Regions from separate parts of the Homo sapiens genome. Here region 1 is linked to region 2. The links come from fine-mapping of genetic effects on plasma protein levels. A gene starts in region 2. The other region holds a variant in brackets. All regions are shown on one strand. Distances are between the middles of the regions.

What was found. PIP is the posterior inclusion probability: the model's chance that the variant is causal. The UK Biobank Pharma Proteomics Project read protein levels with antibody pairs (Olink). The fine-mapping took linkage between variants from a reference panel, not from the people measured, so its PIPs are less certain.
Region 1: its variant is fine-mapped to the plasma level of the SCPEP1 protein (UK Biobank, PIP 0.98).

What each region holds. Positions count from the first base shown.
Region 1 is chr17:56,892,165-56,900,397 of GRCh38, forward strand. It overlaps TRIM25 (tripartite motif containing 25), which reads right to left. Exons shown (of 9, transcript NM_005082.5): 5 at 6,951-7,016; 6 at 3,762-3,788; 7 at 3,357-3,440; 8 at 3,179-3,277; 9 at 1-65. Among named protein-coding and RNA genes, the nearest start is that of MIR3614, 4.9 kb to the left of the region's middle. The variant A/G (reference allele first, on the strand shown) is at 4,136.
Region 2 is chr17:56,968,138-56,980,499 of GRCh38, forward strand. It overlaps SCPEP1 (serine carboxypeptidase 1), which reads left to right and starts at 9,994. Exons shown (of 13, transcript NM_021626.3): 1 at 9,994-10,098. The coding sequence starts at 10,023. It overlaps LOC105371836 (a long non-coding RNA gene), which reads left to right. Exons shown (of 4, transcript XR_934875.4): 3 at 3,142-3,288; 4 at 7,612-7,870. RefSeq lists a silencer at 9,877-9,936.

The sequences.
Region 1 (8,233 bases), 78 kb before region 2:
ATAGCACTCTGACAGAGCCACTTTGTTGTGGGCGGTGTTGTAGTCCAGGATGACTTTAATGTAATCTGAGAAAACATCACCCCAAGGAATTAATTACAAGGGGCCCAAAGTGCTCTTTTAGACCTTTGCCAAAGTGGTACTATTTATTCACTAGTTTTATCCATCCATGCACCCATCTACCCATTGGTCCATCCATCCACTCATCTATCCATCTGTCTGTCTATTCATCCATCTATCTGTCTATCCATGTATCCATCAATCCATCCATGTATCCATCCATCCATCTATCCATCTACCCATGTATCCATATACCCATCTATCTACCTATCTATCCATTCTTCCATTCATCCATCTATCCACTTATCTATCCATCCTTCTGCCTTTCCATTTATCCATTCATTCATTCATTAATCTATCCACTTATCTATCCATCTGTCCATTTATCCATCCACCCATCTATCCACCCATCCATTATTCATCAGCTCATCTATCCATCCATTCATCCATCCATTCTGTCCAGCCAGCCAGCCATCTATCATCTATCAGTCATCCGTATGTCTGTCCATTCATCCATCCAAAACCATTTACCAGGCACCTGACTGACACCAGATTCTGGCACAAGATGCACAACCATGAACCAGAGAGACAAGGTGCCGGGCCTCATGGAGTTCACACTCCAACAAGCAAGGCAAGTCCATCAGTAACAACACCATGAGACTCACACTCTGCCAAAAGGGTAAGCACACACTGTAGGGACACAGAGACAAGGCAACTGATGCTACAGTTGGGGAACATTTCACTGGCAGGCTGGAATTGGAGCCAAGTAACAGAAGATGAGAACTAGACAGAGGAGAACAGAGAGAGAAAAGCTGTTCCAGACAGAGGGAACAGTGAGAGTGAAGCCACGGAGTGCCAAGGGGATTCGCATGTGCTGGGATCGGGGAAGCTGGGTGGCTGGGAACACAGATGCAGCAGGAGAAGGGAAACATGTTGGGGCTAGAAAGGGAAGGGCTTAGGAGGCTAGACTTTAACTGGTGGGCAGCAGGGAGCCAAGCGAGGCACTCATTTGCTAGGTGGCTCAGGGCATGACACTTTTCACTGGAGCCCGAGTTTCCCCCAAGGCAAAATGAATAAGCTGGGGGTGGAAAAGGCCCTAAGTTGATAGAATTTTACTTTCCCTGTTTATGCGGCTGCCACAGAGTGCACAGCAGCTCCTGAAAGACGTGGCTCAGCACCGCCGCTAGCAGCTTGGGCAAGAGTTAGCTGCAGCCCAGGGCTGGTCTGGGCCTCTCTTGGGGGGCAGGGACAGCGGAGGGCTACAAGAAGGCCAGCCCTGAAAAAGCAAGGGACCCACAGATCCCCACCAAGCCTGCTGCAGCTGCTTATGATAAAGGAAGGGCTATATTTTTCAGTGATTGGCTTTGGCCTCCACATGGAAGTGGGTACCACTGGCAGGTGCTGCCTGGAGTGTTGCACGTGGGTGCAGAAGAAACAAGAAGACGGAAAGTGGGAGGGCCCTAGGCCTGGCCTTGACAACGGAACTCCACCCACTTCCAGGTTGGACGAGCTTGCAAAGGAGGGGTGGATGGAAACCCAGGGGGGTATAGCAGCTCAAGCGGCAAGGGGAGAGAGTGTCAGAAGGAGGAGGAATGCCACTGACAGGTGAAGCTAAATAAAAGCTGAAAGGCGTCCCTGGATTTTGTGACACGGAGTACCCTGATGACCTCAGAGCTGCCTGGGTCAAGGGCAGGACAGAGGTCAGAATGCAGTGGCACGAGGATTAGACTTCAGGCTCCCACCTCGGCCCCACATTGCAACCCTGGGCAGCCAAACACCAACATTCTGAATGAACCAGTCTGGGGGACAGCCTGGGCATCGGGGATTTTAAAAAGCTCCCCAGGATTCCAACACGCAGCCACAGTTGAGAGCCACCAATGTAGAAAATCTGCAGAGCTGCTTTTCCCCAACTGTCCTCAAAAGGATCATGGAGGAAATGAGCTAAACATACAGCTTTCCGTGCTTGCCTGAGTCTGATCTTGTAGGGCTAGAACAGGGCCCAGGAATTTGGTTTTTGGGGTTTTTTGTTTGTTTGTTTGTTTTTTAAGACAGAGTCTCGCTCTGTTGCCCAGACTGGAGTGCAGTGGCACAATCTCGGCTCACTGCAACCTCCACCTCCCAAGTTCAAGTGATTCTCGTGCCTCAGCCTCCCAAGTAGCTGGGATTATAGGCATGTGCCACCACGCCCGGCTAATTTTTTGTATTTTTAGTAGAGATGGGGTTTTGCCATGTTGGCCAGGCTGGTCTTGAACTCCTGACCTCAGGTGATCCACCTGCCTCGGGCTCCCAAAGTGCTGGGATTACAGGCATGAGCCACCGCACCCAGCTAGTAATTTGTATTTTTAACAAGCATTCGGGTGAAAGGGAGGCAGGAAACAGAGCTGCAGCTGAGACAGTTTTGCTAGGTTTGTTTTTGTGATTTGGAGAGATGTAAACGTGCTACAGATAGGCAAGCCTAGGTAGAGATGCTGAGGGTGAAGAGATGGGAATGGAAAGGCCTAAGAGAGAGCAGAAGATTCCAGAGAGCGTGTGGGGAGCAGACTCCAGAGCCCAGGGCCAGGGGGTCTTGGGAAAGGGGCCAGGAGGCGAGGAAGGGGGCACAGTAGATGCAGATGCGATGTCAATAACAGAGCAGGGGGAGCCCCTTCTACAGTGTCTGTCTTTTTCGTGAAGCAGAAGGTGGGCGGGACAGGGAGAAGGATGGAGCTATGGCCAGTGGGAAGTCTTGGGAATGGTGGCTCTGGAGAGTGGTGGGGAGGAGACAGGAGATGCAGGGCAGGCATGCCGGCAACGGGACGCCCGGTGAAGGCCGGTGACCGCAATCGCCCTGCCTTCTCTGCAGAGGACATGCAGGCGCCGACCCACAGAGAAAGGTGAGCTCAATTGGGCCAGACTAGACGGCAAGAGGGAGAGTCAAAGGACCGATTGTGAAATCTGAGCTAGTTAGGAAAAGTAAAGAAAGGCACTGATGACTGGGAGAAAATAAGGGAGCAACAAAGTAGAGGACAAGTGAAGGGGAGTGGCTGATATAGCCGGCCAGCTGGCCTCACAGAGAGCTGCACAGAGCGGCGCAGGAGAGACAGAACCAGTGGAACCGCGCACCAGCCCCGAAGCTACTCACACTCCAGGAGCTCAGGTCTGGACTTGGCCAGGAAGGTCTCCAGCACCTTGGCCTTGAGAGATGTTGAGTTCGGATGTGAGCTGGTGGCTTTGGCTGCAGCTGGGAGAGGAAACAGAGAGTGATTTGCAGAACAAACTCAGAGTGGACACCCCAAAGCTCCTTGCCCATGATAACTTACCCTCCAAGCCAGCTTGTTTTAAATCCACTAACTGTTCCGGGGCTCCAAACGTGGGAAGCTTGCTGGGTAAGGCAGGGACAGGGGCTGGGGGTAAGGAAAGGGAAATATGATACAGAGCAACGGGATGGCCTCTACTCCCTTCCACACTGATTAAGAGCCACTTCTACAAACACACGCCTGAACAGCAGGACAACACAGGGGAAAACAGACAAGGCTAAAGTCACCTTATTCATCTCACTTATGCTTGTCCTCCCCTCCAGCCTCAGGCCTGCTGCCATTACAGAATGGAATCATATAGAACCCATCACAGAACCCTGATGAGAGAGGTCGACTCTCACTACCAGCATTTAGTTCTGTGCTCGGGCAGTCTCAAGAAACGAACAGTTGCAGAAATGCATAACTTACGAGGTTTCTTGGATTTCTTTTCCTCTTCTGCAAAAGAAAGTTTTCAGATTTAATTTCTTTTAAGGCACAACACAATGACATTTTCAAAATAATAACATTCATGTGCATGAATTTGACCCAGACAAATAAAAGGATGTTTTAATTTGAAAAACAGAAGGAGTCAGCAGGCAAAATGAATCTATAGTGATAGAAACCAGCATGAGCGGTCGTGGGGGCGGGGACTGACTAATAAGGAGCATGAAGGAATTTTCTGGAGAAAGGGAAATTCTTTATCTTGATTTGAACAATGGTAACACATGTATGCATTTGTCAAAATAGATCTAACTGCACATTTAAGATTTACTGCAGGGAAAAAAGAGATTTACTGCAGGTAA[A/G]TTATATTTCCATAAAGGAAAAAACACAAAAACCAAATAGGGAATCAGAAAAAAAAAAATGCTTGCCAAGGGCTGGGCGCATGGTGGCTCATGCCTGGAATCCCAGCAATTTGGGAGGCCAAGGTGCAGGAACCACTTGATCTCAAGCGTTAGAAACTAGCATGGGCAACATGGGGAAACCCCATCTCTACAAAATTACAAAAAAAAAAAAAAAGAAAAAACTAGCCAGGCCTAGTGGCACACACCTGTAGTCCCAGCTACTTGGGAGGTGAGGCAGAAGAATTGCTTGAGCCCAGGAGGATGAGGCTGCAGTGAGCTGTGTTCTTGCCACTGCACTCCAGCCTCAGCAACAAAATGAGACCCTGTCTCAAAAAAAAAAAAAAATGCTTGCCAAGTCTTTTAAAAATATCTGGAGTGTCTACCTACAGGAACTGAGTTTGGCTAAAATAGTCGTTCTCAAAGTCTGGTGCCCAAGCCAGCTGCAGTGACATCACCAGAGAACCCCTAAGAAATGCAAATTATTGGTCAGGCACTGTAGCTTACTCCTGTAATCCCAGCAATTTGGGAGGCTGAGGTAGGAGGATTGCTTGAGGCCAGGAGTTCAAGATCAGCCTGGACAACATATCAATATCCTGTCTCTACAAAAAAAAAAAAATTGTTTTAATTAGCCTGGCTTAGTGGCACATGCCTACAGTCCTAACTCCTCAAGAGGCTAAGGTAGGAGGATCACTTGAGCCCAGGAGTTCGAGGCTGCAATGAGTTCTGTTCGCACCACTGCACTCCAGCCTAGGCAAAAGAGCGAGACTCTGTCTCTTAAAAAATAGTAAATGCAAATTCTTGGGCCCCAAGCCAGAGCCACTGAATCATAAAGGCTGGGGGTGAGACCCAGCAATCTGTGATGTACAAGCCCTCCAGGTGAGTCCAAAGTCCACTCAAGTGGGCTAGAAGATCCCAGCTTCCTTCTTTGCCACCTTCCACAACACTGGAACAAAAAGGGGCGTTTTTGAAATCATATCCCTGCCCACCTGCAGGACACCTGACATTACAGATAAGCCCTGCTCTCTCCTATTACCCTCTCCCTCCCCCAGACCCCCATCACACCACAAAGCCCCCTTGCTACCGCTTCTCCTACTTCGAAGTCACATCACTCACAGTCGCTCACTCTCCCATTTCCTCCCCTTCTGCCACTTTCCCACCCACTCCCTGTGGACCAGCATCTTGGGAGGCCCAGGCTGTGACATCAATCTAGGGCACAGGCACCTCCCTCATCACCTACCCTTAGACATCTCTCTGCACTGGGACTACTCCATACCCCCTCCCCTATTTCCCCATTTCAGCCTAGAGGAGCCTTGATTCATTCCCGAACTTTATTCTCCAGGGTGTCATTCTGCTGTGACATGAGGACCTCACCTCACTGGGGAACACACCTGCCTGCTGGCCGGCATCCCTACCTCATTCATACTAAGGGAGGAGCTTTCAGAGGAAGGTGACTGGGGAAGGACACAGGTCAACAGTACCTTTCCACTTCCTCTTTCACTCCTCTTTTCACACAAAGTACCCTTCGAGGTTTTCCGGCCCAGCTAAGGGCTCCCTCCTCCATCTGCACCAGGCATCCCAGCCCTGACTCTGTTCCATTCGGGGACCGATACCACACTCTGCCTGCTACAGGTGACCTGAACACTAAGCACAAGCAACAACAACAAAGAGCAAGCCCTGGCTCTCTCATCCCCCCAACACCAGCAGTGTGCAGCCAGCCCTCCTGGGTTCACACCAACTTTTCAGGGAAGCAATGACAGCTAACATTTCAGTGGTATATGGACATGTCAGTGGTATATGAACATGTCAGCGGTATATGGGCATGTCAGCGGTATATGGACATCTCAGCGATATATGAACATGTCAGCGGTATATGGACATGTCAGCAGTATATGGACATCTCAGCGGTATATGGACATGTCAGCAGTATATGAACATCTCAGCGGTATATGGACATGTCAGCGGTATATGGACATCTCAGTGGTATATGGACATCTCAGTGGTATATGGACATCTCAGTGGTATATGGCTCATAAAGAGCTCTCACAATCAGTGTCCCCTCATCACTCAGAATCATCCTGTGGCCTCGATATCACTATTGTCCACATTTGCAGAACAGGACCACTCTTCTCCTCAACCCCCATGTCAATGGCAGGTGCCTGCCCAATGAGGGGGATAGTACCCCTAGGAGGGCAAAAATGGATCCTTGGGGGAGGGGGAGTAAAAAAGATTACTCTTTTTATGTGTAAAAGCACAAACATAAACAGTTATGCAGTAGATGGGTGGTATTAAAATTTCATGGGTTGTAATTAGGAAAAAAATTTTCTCAAATGGTTCTGGGGATGAGCAGGAGGAGGGTAACAGTGAGAAACCAAAAAAAAAAAAACAGTTGAGAAACATGGTAATAGCAGAAGCCCATTACAACCCAGAGACTTAACACTGCTGAGATGCCAAGGAGGTTTAGCCTCCACCCTTCCTGGACCGCCATCAGTCTCCTTGCCCAAGGCTCTGCCCAAGGACTTGGGTATAGTAAATATTTCTCAAAACAAGCCAGCCTCAGGCATCTTGCTGTTCCAGGCAGCCCAAACGTGCAATGCTGATGGACAGCGGAGCTTCTGCCACAGCCCTACAGCCCCCCGCAGTGGGGACTGCCACCAACTTCTTTCCCACTGAGGTCCAGGCCCCACAGTGACTCGGGATGGGCCGGAAGTGACTTGGCCAGAGCCTGGGGAGGCCACAGCCATGCTGTTGCCATGGAGACAGGGGTGGGGCTACTTACTGGAGACCTTCTTCACAGGGCGTGTGGATTTGTGTGTGGACGCTGGGTCATGCTCTCCAGGGTCACCTGTGTCAGAGAAGAAGGGCTCAGTGTGTGCGGCTCCTCTCACTGACCCTAGCAGCCAGCTTTGCCATGGGTCGGTGGGCAGGCAGAGGGTTTACACAGACAGCCATTTCCTCCGACCTTCCCCATCCCATCGCTTACAAGAGCTACAAACAAGGTGATCTAAGAACCAGTTTGGTGTATTCCCTTTTTTCTCTGACTTTTTAAAATGTAGCAAGGGCCAAGTCTTTTTTCCACCAGCACCCAGCTCTGTGGCCTCTGAGACTTCTCTGAGCTTTGGTTTCTTCGAGCACACAATGGGGATGACTTCACCTTGCTCATGGTTGATGTGACTCCTGAATGAGATCAAGGTCATGTAGCGGAGGCTGGGTCAACACTTGTTCCTTTCCCACTATTCTTTCTCTCCCCTCCTCCCACATACCAGCCACCTATAGCTTTGCCCCCACGCAGCACTTCCACAATGGGGCTGCACCGCCACCGATTTCAGAAGCCCTTCTGCAAGGACACTCGGCAGGCCAAGCTGAGATTCAAGCCCAATCTTGGACTACACAACAGAGATTTACTATGGGCCAGGCTCTGTGCTAGGCACTAGGGAAATAGCGTTGAAGAAAAATCAGACAGGCCAGGCACAGTGGCTCAAGCCTGTAATCCCAATGATTTGGGAGGCCAAGGCAGGAGCATCACTTGAAGCCAGGAGCTCAAGATCAGTCTGGACAACTTAGCGAGACCCTGGCTCTACAAAAAAAATTTTTTAGGCTGGGCCCGGTGGCTCACGCCTGTAATCCCAGCATTTTGGGAGGCTGAGGCAGGCAGATTACTTGAGGTCGAGAGTTCAAGACTAGCCTGACCAAAGTAGTGAAACCATGTCTCTATTAAAAATACAAAAATTAGCCAGGTGTGGTGGCACATGCCTGTAATCCCAGCTACTCAGGAGGCTGAGGCAGGAGAAATGCTTGAACCTGGGTGGCAGAGGTTGCAGTGAGCAGAGATTGGGCCATTGCACTCCAGCCTGGGTGACAGAGCGAGACTCCGTCTCAAAAAAAAAAAAATTTTTTTTTAATTAGCCGGGCATGATGGTGTGTATCTATAGTCCTAGCTAGTCGGGAGGCTGAGGCAGAGGGATCACTTAATCCCAGGAGTTTGAGGTTACAGTGAACTATAATCACGCCATTGCATTCCGGCCTGGGCGACAGAGCAAGATCCTGAATAAATAAATAAAT
Region 2 (12,362 bases):
GCTAGCTTTAAAAATTATTGGTAAAGTAATATTAGAAATGTCTTAGGAGCTGCCAGTGTACATTTTTGTTTGCATTTATTGATCAAGCAATTTCATACTTATCTCTGCTAAATACTAGAAGGTGTCAAAATTTGGCATAGAGGCTACAAAAGTATGACTCAGCCCAATACAGAATGATCTTTGCTTGTGTAATTTTTAATAAATGAAACATTAATATTGGTTTAATGAAGAAGCTACATCTTGAATTATTTAGTTAAATACCCAAACTTCTAATCTTGTGTTAGGCAGTCTAGTCCATAGACATGAAGGAAGTTTGTTCTGCAAAAGGACTGTTATCATCTTTGTTTCAAAGCTAAACTCTAAGTTAATGAACAAGAATAGCTTGGAGGTTAGAAGCAAGATGGAGTCAGTTAGGTCAGATCGTTTTCACTGTCTCAGTTATAATTTTTTTATTATACTTTAAGTTTTAGGGTACATGTGCACAACGTGCAGGTTAGTTACATATGTATACATGTGCCATGTTGGTGCTCAGTTATAATTTTGCAATGGCAGTTTCATAACTTTAAATGAAGACTATCACAGTTTTCATGAATAATCTAGGTAAATGATTAAAATAAATAATTAGATAAATGTAATGGGATAAATACTCATAAACAAACTTGTCATAATTTAGAATCTAAAGTTATATTAAACAACAGAGATTTTATTATTTGGTTATTTTCCAGTAAAAATATATTGTAGGAGCTACTCGGAAGGCTTAGGCAGGAGAATGATGTGAACCCGGGAGGCAGAGCTTGTAGTGAGTGGAGATCACGCCACTGCACTCCAGTCTGGGCAACAGAGTGAGACTCTGTCTCAAAAAAAAAAAAAAAAAAAAAAAAAAAAAAAAAATATATATATATATATATATATATATATATATATATATATGGTAGGAAAACATTCTAAAAATTGTGTCCTTTGTAAAGGGTAACTAATTTTTGTCTAATTCAAAACTTATTTAAAGGTTATATATAAAACAAGGTATTAAAGAAAAGAGAATTTATGTAAGAAAAGATCTCATATGGTAAATTGTTGCCATAAAGTAAAATAACTGGTTGTTTAAAGAAAGGGCTATTTAGGACAAGTCAGAAAGTTGAGGCATGTCAGAGATTGCCTGTGTAAGTCAAGAAAGAATTTATGAAAGGGAATTTACACAAGAAATGTTGTACAATTTAAAGGTGATTAGACCTCCTAAATACTTTATTTAAAAAATTGCCTCTATGACTCTTAGCTGTAAAACTTGCCTGCTTTACAGCTAGGTACGGCCTAGGACACATGGAGTTAGATGCTGGAATAAGTCAGACTTACCTGCACTTCTGTCTAGGTTCTAGGCTCCACACTTAGTAGATAATTAAAATCCCAAACTTAGCAAGGTTTTCACAAAAGTAAAGTTTGCCAAGAGTTAAGAGTGTAACATGTATTTAAGACTGTTAAAGAAACAGTTCACATGCAAGCAGTGTAAGGAAAGTAAAATATACTTTTGGTAAAAAGATTATAACGAGGCATGAGAATGTGGATTTTTGCCTAAATTTAAAGGTTAAAGGATTGTTTTAAGTTGAACAAAATAAAGACGAAGGTTTAAGCAAGTTGTGGAAGGTTGATTGTAAAGGAAATTCTTTGTGTAAACATATTGGCTGAAGTTAAAGGTGTATCATCCAGTGTTTTTCTCAATTAAGCATTAAAATAAAAGCACACTGGGTTTCTCTTAGAGCACTAACCTGCTCTTTAACAAAAATTGTAAAGGCTTTTTTTTTTTTTTTTTTTGAGACGTAGTCTCACTCTGTTGCCCAGGCTGGAGATCAGTGGTGCGATCTTGGCTCACTGCAAGCTCCACCTCCTGAGTTCACGCCATTCTCCTGCCTCAGCCTCCCAAGTAGCTGGGACTACAGGTGCCTGCCACCATGCCTGGCTAATCTTTTGTATTTTTAGTAAAGGGTTATAAAAGGTCTATAAAAATATTACCTTATGGTCAAACATTAAAATTGGGTAAATATGTCTATAAGGTTTTACTAAGAATTGGGTTTAACATTAATAGTACACTAATGTAAAGGTGTAATTGGCTTATTTGGTATAAGAATTATGCAGGAAGAATTGTCAAATATGAAATGGTGTTTGGCTTTCTTTGGGCTATATTTGTATGAATATGTTATTGGTATGTGTTCCAAAGTTATGGGAGACTCCTATATTTCTAATATATCTTAGTGTACATTATCAATAATAATTATAATAGTTATGTTAAGTTATTGTGTACCACAGAGGTAACAGATTTCCTTGTCAATTGTATCTTTAACTATGGCTACCCTAAAACTTTTTGTCATCCATAAACAATTGTTCTCCTCTTTTGGTCCTCTTTAGAAGGTGGTTTTATAATCAGCTATAAAGCTCTAACAGGTGCTCTTGAATGCAGGTTTCTGATAACTTTGGAGATTGTGACATCAGAACTGAGGAAAAATGTTCAGGACTTTTTTTTTTTTTCTCTTGAGACAAGAGTCTTGCTCTGTCGCCCAGGCTGGAGTACAGTGGTGTGATCTCAGCTCACTGCAACCTCCACCTCCAGGTTCAAGAAATTCTCCTGCATCAGCCTCCCGAGCAGCTAGGACTACGGGCATGTGCCACCATGCCTGGTGATTTTTTTGTATTTTTAGTTGAGATGGGATTTCACCATGGTAGCCAGGCTGGTCTCAAACTCCTGACCTCAGGCAATCCGCCCACCTCAGCCTCCCAAAGTGCTGGGATTACAGGTGTGAGCCACCGTGCCAGGCCTCAGGACTCTTGAAGAGCTAAACTGCTCATTAATATCAAGCAGGACAGGAATTAACTGCATTAACTGAACTAATAGGAGACTGAAGTGATCTTTTGACTTTTTGCTTAAAATATTGCTAATTCTTTGTTTTGTTTTTCAGAGTCAAGGAAACTTTTCTTTTGAACTATTGACAGCTTTTAACAATTTAGTATACTCCCATGAACAAAATTTGAGCATATTTGTTTCTCTCTAGCTGATTTTCTCCAGAATTTGAAAACTATTTGTAAGTATTCTTAATCTATGGCAATATAGTTATTTGGATAAGTGGAATAAAAATCTGATTTCTTTTGTAACAGGTCACAATTGAAAAAACTGATCATTTTACCAAGGCTTTGACTGGAATGGTGTGCTTTCCTTTAAGAAATCAAACTTGACTTATGGAGCCAACGGAACCCCAAGTTGTCTTGGAACCTCAAGAGGAGAGAAATTCACCCAACACATAGGTATTTGATGGTACAAATCCATGACTGGGCTTGGCTTTAAAGTCTTATCTGAGATTCCTGCTGTGGAACAAAGTTCCATCAAAGCCAGTTTAAAAGGTCTATGTGAAAAATAATTTTTCTTGCTGCAGTTTATGCAAATAATCTGGCCAGCTGGGCATAGTGGCTCATGCCAGTAATCTCAGCACTTCGGGAGGCCGAGGTGGGCAGATCACGAGGTCAGGAGATCAAGACCATCCTGCCCAACATGGTGAAACCCCTTCTATACTAAAAATACAAAAATTAGCTGGGTGTGGTAGTACGTGCCTGTAATCCCAGCTACTCGGGAGGCTGAGGCACAAGAATTGCTTGAACCTGGGAGGTGGAGGTTGCAGTGAGCCAAGATTGTGCCACCGCACTACAGCATAGTGACAGACTGAGACTCTGTCTCAAACAAAACAAACAAACAAATAATCTGGCCAAGTATAATAAAGCAAATTGGTCCTATCATGATTTGTCTCTAGTAAAAATGGGAAACTGGAGACAGAAAAGTTATGTTTCAAAAACTATAGTACACCTATTGTTAAATTCTAGTCTTGCCTGATGTTTTTCAGTTTTTATTACTTTCTACAGTTTGGATGAAGTTCTAATTTTTCTGGCTACAGGTCTCCAAAATAATGTTTTCAATTTTTTCCTCTTTAGTTTCCTTTTTCCCCATTCTTTCAATTGGAAATCACTGAAACTTAAGCTGTGCTTACTTAAAGCCCTGTGAACTAAACAACTTAAATTTCAGAAGAAAACAGCAGCAACCTATTTATATGTTGCTGTTGCATACTATTACGCTGTTGCAAACTATTTACATGTGTTGCTGTTGCATACTAGTATGTTTCAACAGGTGCTGCCTCTAAGCCCTGAAGCAGAGAGTGCTACCAAGAACAAATCGACCTCTTCCACTCCAGTGCTGTGTTTGGTGCCCCATAACGACGACCCTCTCTCAGCAGGAAGTAGCCAGAAAGGTTATGATGTCCCATCTCCCTACAATCCTCGTGATAAATAAATATACAAGCATGATAGATATCATGTGCAAATTGACAGTGGAGATTGTGGCAGGCGGATCTCACTAAAGCAGGCTTCTGTAACAACTGTTTCAGTATTGACTGAGTGGTTAAGTTAAATATTAAAAGCCAGTGGCCCTTATACAAAGGCTGGGATGGAACAAAAGCCCACCAAGAGTTTTGCGTAGGCCTTTCCTGGGCCTTAAAGCATGACAAAATAATGAAGGAATTCTTAACAGGACCCATTTAGGATTAAACAAGTTTTATCATGAGTCTGAAGAAGCTTTCCAGGCCTCCACATACAAGTTTATTGCAGGTCTGAAGGAACTCCCTAAACCTCCATGATTTAGCAGGAGACAAGATAAGGGTAACCACCCCAGCACCTGGACCCATTTAGATTAAGTAAATTTACTGATGCTCCGGAGGAAGATCCTCAGGACTCAGACCTTAATTATAGATTAAAAGTAGTGAATCACTTATGTCTTTAGATGAATGCACACTTACACGTAGACATATAGCTTAAAAGGTATATAAGCTCTGGAAAATGTTGTAATTTGGAGTTGGTCTGGCAATAACTTCCAGGCCTTCCCCCTGTAACTGGTTACAGAAATAAAAACTCTCTCCCCAATTCATCTGCATCTCATTATTGGGGCACAAGAAATAGCAGCCCAACCCTCAGTTTTGTCCAGGAACACTAGAATTACCAGCGTGAGCCACAGTAGCTTGCCTGTAAATGCTCTTTATCAAGTTGAGGAAGGTCCCCTCAATTCCCATTTTCTGAATTTTTTAAATAATAAATTTAAAAACTGTGTGTTAAACTTGTGATGTTAAATTTTGTCAGGTATTTTTTCTGCACTGATTTATATGATTATATGATTTTTCTTCTTTTTCCTTTTAATGTGGTTGATCATTTTGATTGTTTTTCAAATAATGAACCATCTATGTTTCCTTACAATAAATTCTATTTGGTTATGGTGAATTAATTCTTTTTATGAAATGCTGAATTCTATTTGCTAATATTTTATTAAGAATGTCTGCACCTACATCAAGTAGAGTTTTATGGATGGAAATTAAAAGAAAAGAAGTTTGGGGCTGAACATGGTGGCCCCTGCTGTAACTGCCCAACGGGTTCACCTTGCCCACTGCCTAGACAGAACCGGTTTATCAAGACAGGGGAATTGCAAAACAAAAAGAGTAACTCATGCAGAGCTGGCTGCGCAGGAGTCAGGAGTTTTATTATTACTCAAATCAGTCTCCCTGTGCATTCAAGGACCAGAGTTTTTAAGGATAATTTGGTTGGTGGAGTGCCAGTGAGTCGGGAGCACTGATTGGTCAGGTTGAAGATGAACTCATAGGGAATCTAAGCTGTCCTCTTGTGCTGAGTCAATTCCTGGGTCGGGGCCACCAGAACAGATGAGCCAGTTTATCGATCTGGGTGATGCCAGCTGATCCATCCAGCGCAGGGTCTGCTGAATATCTCAAGCACTGATCTTAGGTTTAACTATAGTGATGTTATCCCCAGGAGCAATTTGGGAAGGCTCAGAATCTTGCAGCCTCCAGCCGCATTACTCCTAAACCATAATTTCTAATCTTGTGGCTAATTTGTTAGTCCTGCAAAGGCAGTCTAGTCTCCAGGCAAGAAGGGGGTTTGTTTTGGGAAAGGGCTGTTAGTTAGCATTATTAACTAGTTCCCTCAACCATAAACATCTTGTAACCAAGAGTGCCCAACCCCCTGGGAATATAACCCAGCAGATTTGGCTTTTTCTGGCCTTTATTCAAGATGGAGTCACTCTGGTTAGGTTGCCTGACACAAGTGCACAGAGACTGATATGCTCAAAGGGAAGATGATGTGAAGACACATGAGAAGACAGTCACGTAATGCCAAGGTTTACCACAAGCATCTGCACCAAGAATTCGATGGATGGGCCTTTAGGAACTCCCAACCAATTTCCATTAGCCTCCCTCCCAAACCCTTCTCAGAATAAACATATAATTTTAAAAACAGTTTTGAGGTTCAGTACCCAGTATCTTTTTTCCAGTCCTATTGCCTCCTTTATAGCCGTATTTTATATATATATAATTTTTTTTTTTTTTTTGAGACAGAGTCTCACTCTGTCACCCAGGCTGGAGTGCAGTGGCACGATCTCGGCTCACTGCAACCTCTGCCTCCTGGGTTTAAGCAATTCTCCTGCCTCAGCCTCCCGAGTAGCTGGGAATACAGGCACAAGCCGCCACACCCGGCTAATTTAGTTTCACCATGTTGCCCAGGCTGGTCTGGAACTCCTGAGCTGAGGCAATCCACCCTCCTTGGCCTCCCAAAGTGCTGGGATTATAGGCGCGAGCCACCGCGCCTGGCCCAGTCCTATTATAGTTTTTAGCTGCCCCAAGAGGACAGGTTTACATTGTAGAAATGCAATCCACTTCAAATTGAACCACAAGCATAACTTTTAAAAAATGTTCTGTAGCTGACAGCCTTTGCATAAACTGTGTCAGTGAGAACATTTTGTCAGTGGGAGAGATCTGATTTCACCAACCGGCATCTTGCCTTTGCCTTTAGCCTTCAAGCTACCTTTAATTATTCCTGGACTTCTGGGCCAAGCTAACTTTGGGAGGCATTTAGGTTATAGGTTAAATGATAATGGCCCTTCCCCAAACTTTACGCTAAATGACCACCAGGCTAAGAAAATAGAGGAGGCTGAATTCTGCTAAGGATTGCCAGCCATTATTCCTGAGGTCACAAAATATGCAACTTCTCCAATTACTCCTGCAGACACCATCACTATTGTAGAACCTAAGATTAGCCTTTTGAGATATCTTTTCAGGTTTTTTTGCATGTCTGACACCTGGCTCCACCTGGACCTACCAACTGCTCCTGCGGCCCCACCTGGAAGCAAATCCGCGCAAGAAGACAGCTTCAACTCCCTGTGATTTCATCTCCAACCCAACCAATCAGCAGCAAGCATCCATTGCCTAGCCACCTCTGCTCCTACCCCTAAACTGTCTTTGAAACTACTCCTCAGAGACTGATTTGAGTAATTATAAAACTCCAGTCTTCCTTTCAGCCAGCTCTGCATGAATTAAACTGTTTCCCCATTGCAATTCCCCTGCCTTCATAAATTGGCTGGCTCTATCTGGGCAGCAGGCAAAAAGAACCCATTGGGGGATTACATAGCCACTCCTCATCGGAGAAATTTCTACTGGCTCTTCTTCCAGCCTCAACTCTCTTTGGCTAATCTTTCTCTATATGTAGCCTTCACTTCTTTTCATCTTTCTCTCTTCTTTCCTCTCCTAGGAGCAAAACAAAATTTCTCCTGGGCCGCACAGTTTGGCAATTATCTTTTGTTGCCTTGGCTGCAGCTACTATGCCATCAGCTCCCAACTCCTAACTTCAATGAACCAAGGAGGTATTTTTCTTAAACAAAGACCACTCCAACCCTGAAGATTGGAATTTCGCCACTGCCTGTAAGGATAACAAGCTTTAATCTGGTTTCTACATGTGGTTTTTGTTTATTTTGTTCCTGTGATTATAAACTGTAATGAAAAAAGAAAATGTTACTGTAATACTTGATATCATGTATTTATCCATGTATCCAACCTTCTTTCCATCCTATCCATCAATCCATCTTATATTCTGGATACTTTTTTTTTTTTTAAGAGACATGGTCTCACTATATTGTCCAGGCTGGTCTCAAACTTCTAGGCTCAATCAATCATCCCACCTTGGTCTCCCAAAGAGCTGGATTACAGGCATAGGTCACTGTGCCAGCATCTGGATACATTTCAAAGAAAATTGTATACATTGGTACACCTTCCCCTAAACACTTTAATATGAATATCATTAACTAGAGGTGACATTTTATTTATATTTTTTCCTTTTGAAGTCATATTAGCGTATTATAAAATGCACAATTTTTTTGTGCGTGTGTGAGATGGGGTCTTACTCTGTCACCCAGGCTGGAGTGCAGTGGCACCATCTTGGCTCACTGCAACCTCCACCTCCTGGGTTCAAGCGATTCTCATGCCTTAGCCTCCCGAGTAGTTAAGACCACAAGCAAGTGCCACCACACCCAGCTAATTTTTGTATTTTTGTAGAAATGGGGTTTCACTATGTTGGCCAGGCTGGTCTCAAACCCCCGACCTCAAGTAATCTGCCCACCTCGGCCTCCCAAAGTGCTGGGATTACAGGTGTGAGCCACCTTGCGCCCTGGGCTGTAGTGTTATTTTTGTGGCAAAAAAATTGAAACCCTAAAATTCTGACTGCAGTGGAAGGGTAAGTGTATTTCAAGCCCTAGTGATACAGACCAACTTGGAAGCTTCAGACAGGAAAAGTTTGCTAGATAGTTATTTATTTTTAACTAAGCATGTACTTTTATGTATCTCCCATATGGCATGGAACACCTGCTCACTGCAGCCTGGAGCTCCTGGGCTCAAGTGATCCTCCCACCTCAGCCTTCTGAGTAGCTTGGACAGCAGGCGCGTGTCACCACATCAGTTAATTTTTGTTATTTTTTGTAGAGAGGGGGTCTCAATATGTTGCCCAGGCATTATGGATTTTATGCATTCGGGACCATCCCATGCTTAAAGCATGACAGAACCCGGCGGCATATTTTTCTCTGCCGCAGCTTTCAGTGCAGGGGCACCTCACAGGCAGGGCGGGGTCAAGGCTCTGTCCAGACAATGGCTGCAGAGTAAAAAGCACTTCCATTTATGGGGGTCAAGGGCGAGGGGAGGGAGAAAGGAGCAGGGAAAGAGGAGAAGTGGCCACATGTACTTTGATTTGTTTTTTGCTTTTTGTTACATGTACTTTTGAAGCAGTATTTAGAAGTAGCCTCTCCTACAGCCCCTGCTGTAGCTTGTCTCCTAGCTGTGAGGTGAGTTATTCAGTACCCTCTAACGTAAAAATGACCTTCAGACAGACAGACAGACACACACACACACACACACACACACACAGAGGAAAACAGCTCTGTCATCCACTTTTTCTTCCTTTCCCGTCCCCAGACCCTCGATTCTCTCTTTAAAATGACTGCTGTGAAGATAACGTAACACAGAGTAATACTAATGACAAATTATCAAAAAAGAAAAAAAAAATAAAAATCTTTATTAGTGTTTTTTAAAATGACGTAAAAGACTATGGGAAAAAATGCCAACAATAGTTATGTATAACTTTTTTGTTCATATTTCCAAAACGTTTATAACATACATAACTTTAAAAGAAAAATAATTTAAAAAATACATATCTGAAAATGAAACCCCGCTGTTTGCCAACGACCAGCTGGCTTAATCTGACTTCGCAGATGTAGCAGTGTTGGAAAACGTCGGTTCTTTTGCTGAGGGAAGGAAGAGATGGGAGGGGTAGAAAGGGCGGTGGTTATTCCCTTTAGTATTTCGATCCGGTCACACAACCTAAATCCAACATCTGCATCAAATGTCTCCTTTCCGAAATACTCTCCCTAAAATGACAGAGAACCTGGCCAGGCGGACAGAACGGCCCCTGCGCATTTGCAGGGGTCCTGGTGGGCTTGCCGGGCAGAGGGCGTGCGGGTCTCAGCAAGCTGCCGGGTCCGCCCAGGCCCCGCCCCATGCCCATTCAGGCCCCGCCCCCGACCCGCAGGCCCCGCCCCCGACCCGCCCCGTCCGCCTCCGTCACGTGATGGGGCGCCGGGTCCAGCCTGTTGCTGATGCTGCCGTGCGGTACTTGTCATGGAGCTGGCACTGCGGCGCTCTCCCGTCCCGCGGTGGTTGCTGCTGCTGCCGCTGCTGCTGGGCCTGAACGCAGGTAGGTTCAAGCAAGAGGCGCACCAGCTGCCATGCCTCTTTTTTCTCCAGGCGTGAGAGTTTGTTACTGGGTTTGTGCTTTTGAAAACATGTCTCTTTTCCCCGGTTCTTACCTTGTGTAATTATATTGCTTTTGAATCTCACTCTTTTTTTTTTTTTTCCTTAAAAAATTCAAAGTGCTTTTTTTGTCCTTTTCTGGCTCTGGGTGGTCTGAGTGCTTCCGTTCTCTCCTACGCCTAGATAGAAGCTGTGTGCAGAAATGTATGATTTGGGGAAACTGCTGGTCAATGAGGTTTCCCCGATTCAAAGGCCATGATTGGCTGCTAAATGAGGATATAAGGTCGTTTTATTTTAAGCTGAAATCTGCGGTCAAAAGTACCCTTACATCCTACCACGAATGGGACATTTCATTGAGATAAGGCCCTTTCTTTTCTTGATCAAAACAAACAAGATAACATCTTCCCCCACAGCGATCTTTTTTGGCAAAAAACAGATTTGTGTTTAATAGGATGACTTGCAAATTGATTTTCAGCAAAACCTCTCCTAGTCTGAAGCAAGCACTGAGAATTGGAACTGGCCACAAGCTTGCCTTGTGACCTTAGGCAAGTTGTTGAACAGTTTTGTTTTCCTTTTCTAAAATGGGGATCATCTGGCCCTTAGGCGAGTGTCTGGGAGATTTTGTAAAATAAGTAGCTCTGCCAATTTTACCAGTAGTCACTGCCAGGCAAGGGAGAAGTGCCTGGGGTTAGGTCAAAAGGTACCTGCGCCTTATCTGTCATTCTCAAGGGAGCGCAGCCTTATCTGTTATTGTCAAGGACAATATAATCGTGTGTTACTTGTATATAGAACCTTATAGCTAAGTCTGTAATGTTTTAGTCATCTGTTTTGCTCCTCAGGACACTTTCTGGTTTTCTTAATCTTCATTGTTGTTTTGTTTTGAGTCAGGGTCTCACTATGTTGCCCAGGCTGGTCTGGAACTGCCTGACTCAAGTGATCTTCCTACTTCAGCATCCCAAGTAGCCCGGACTGCAGACACAGGCCACCACCCTGGCTCTTTCTTATTTACAAGACGTTGTCTCATTGTCTTCCTCTCTACTCCTGTCTCTTTAGCTGTTGGGACCAGTGTTCTTTTACTGACCAATGGGGCTTGAAATTTGAGAAGGGAGGAAATAGAAGGCAGAAAACTCCAGTCACCGAGGGGATCCCCCCCATCATCTTTTAACAACAGCCCCTCTACTTTTTTTTTTCCCAGAGTGGTTTTGGAGGAAAAAAAAAAAGATGCTATAACTTGGAAATTGTTACGTTAGCAAAAAGTGACAAAGAAAATGTATTTAGCCTACTCTTTTCTAAAACATATTTTGTGGATGCTAGAAAAGTTAAGTAAGGAAAATTGGAGTTAGGGGATTATAGGATACGTATATTAAACACACATACACAGATATATATCGTTCAGTTTAAAAAAATCATCTACATGAGTTAGGAAAATTGCCCTTTTTCATATTTGTTGTAGCTCTTTCCTTGCTGTTTGCCTTTTTATTTTTGATTTACAGAAATTTTGTTGTATAGAAATATAACAAGTTTCTGTTCTCACCTCCATCATTGTTTCTTTTGTACAGTCTCTGGGGTTTGCTTAGATTCTTTCCTCATCCAGACATTAGAAATATATTTAACTATATTTTTGTATTTTTTTAATGTTTAAAGTTTAAAATTTAATTGCTTGATCCTCATGGAACTTATTTCGTTTATAGTGTTGAGAGGACCTAAATTTCTCTTTTTTTCTCCAAAAAAGGTAATTGTTGCTCCATTACTGTATATTGAATATTCTCAGCCCCACTAATTTGTGATGCCTCTTCACTCATGTTTTTTGTTTGTTTGGTTGGTTGGTTTTTTGTTTTTTTGAGATAGGATCTCCCTCTGTCACCTAGGCTGGAGTGCACTGGTGTGATCACAGCTCACTGCAGCCTCAACCTACTGGGCTCAAGCGATTCTCCTACCTCTGTCTCCTGAGTAGCTGGGACCACAGGCATATGCCACAATGCCCAGCTAATTTTTGCATTTTTTGTAGAGATGGGGTGTTGCTATGTTGCTTAGACTGGTTTTGAACTCCTATGCACAAGCTATCAGCCTGTCTTGGCCTTCCAAAGTGTTGGGATTACAGGAGTGAGCCACCAAGCCTGGTGTCTTACTCATGTATTAAATACGATATAAAAACCAGTATATTGCATTCTGAGATTTTTACTTTTTTACTCAAAATATAAATCTCTC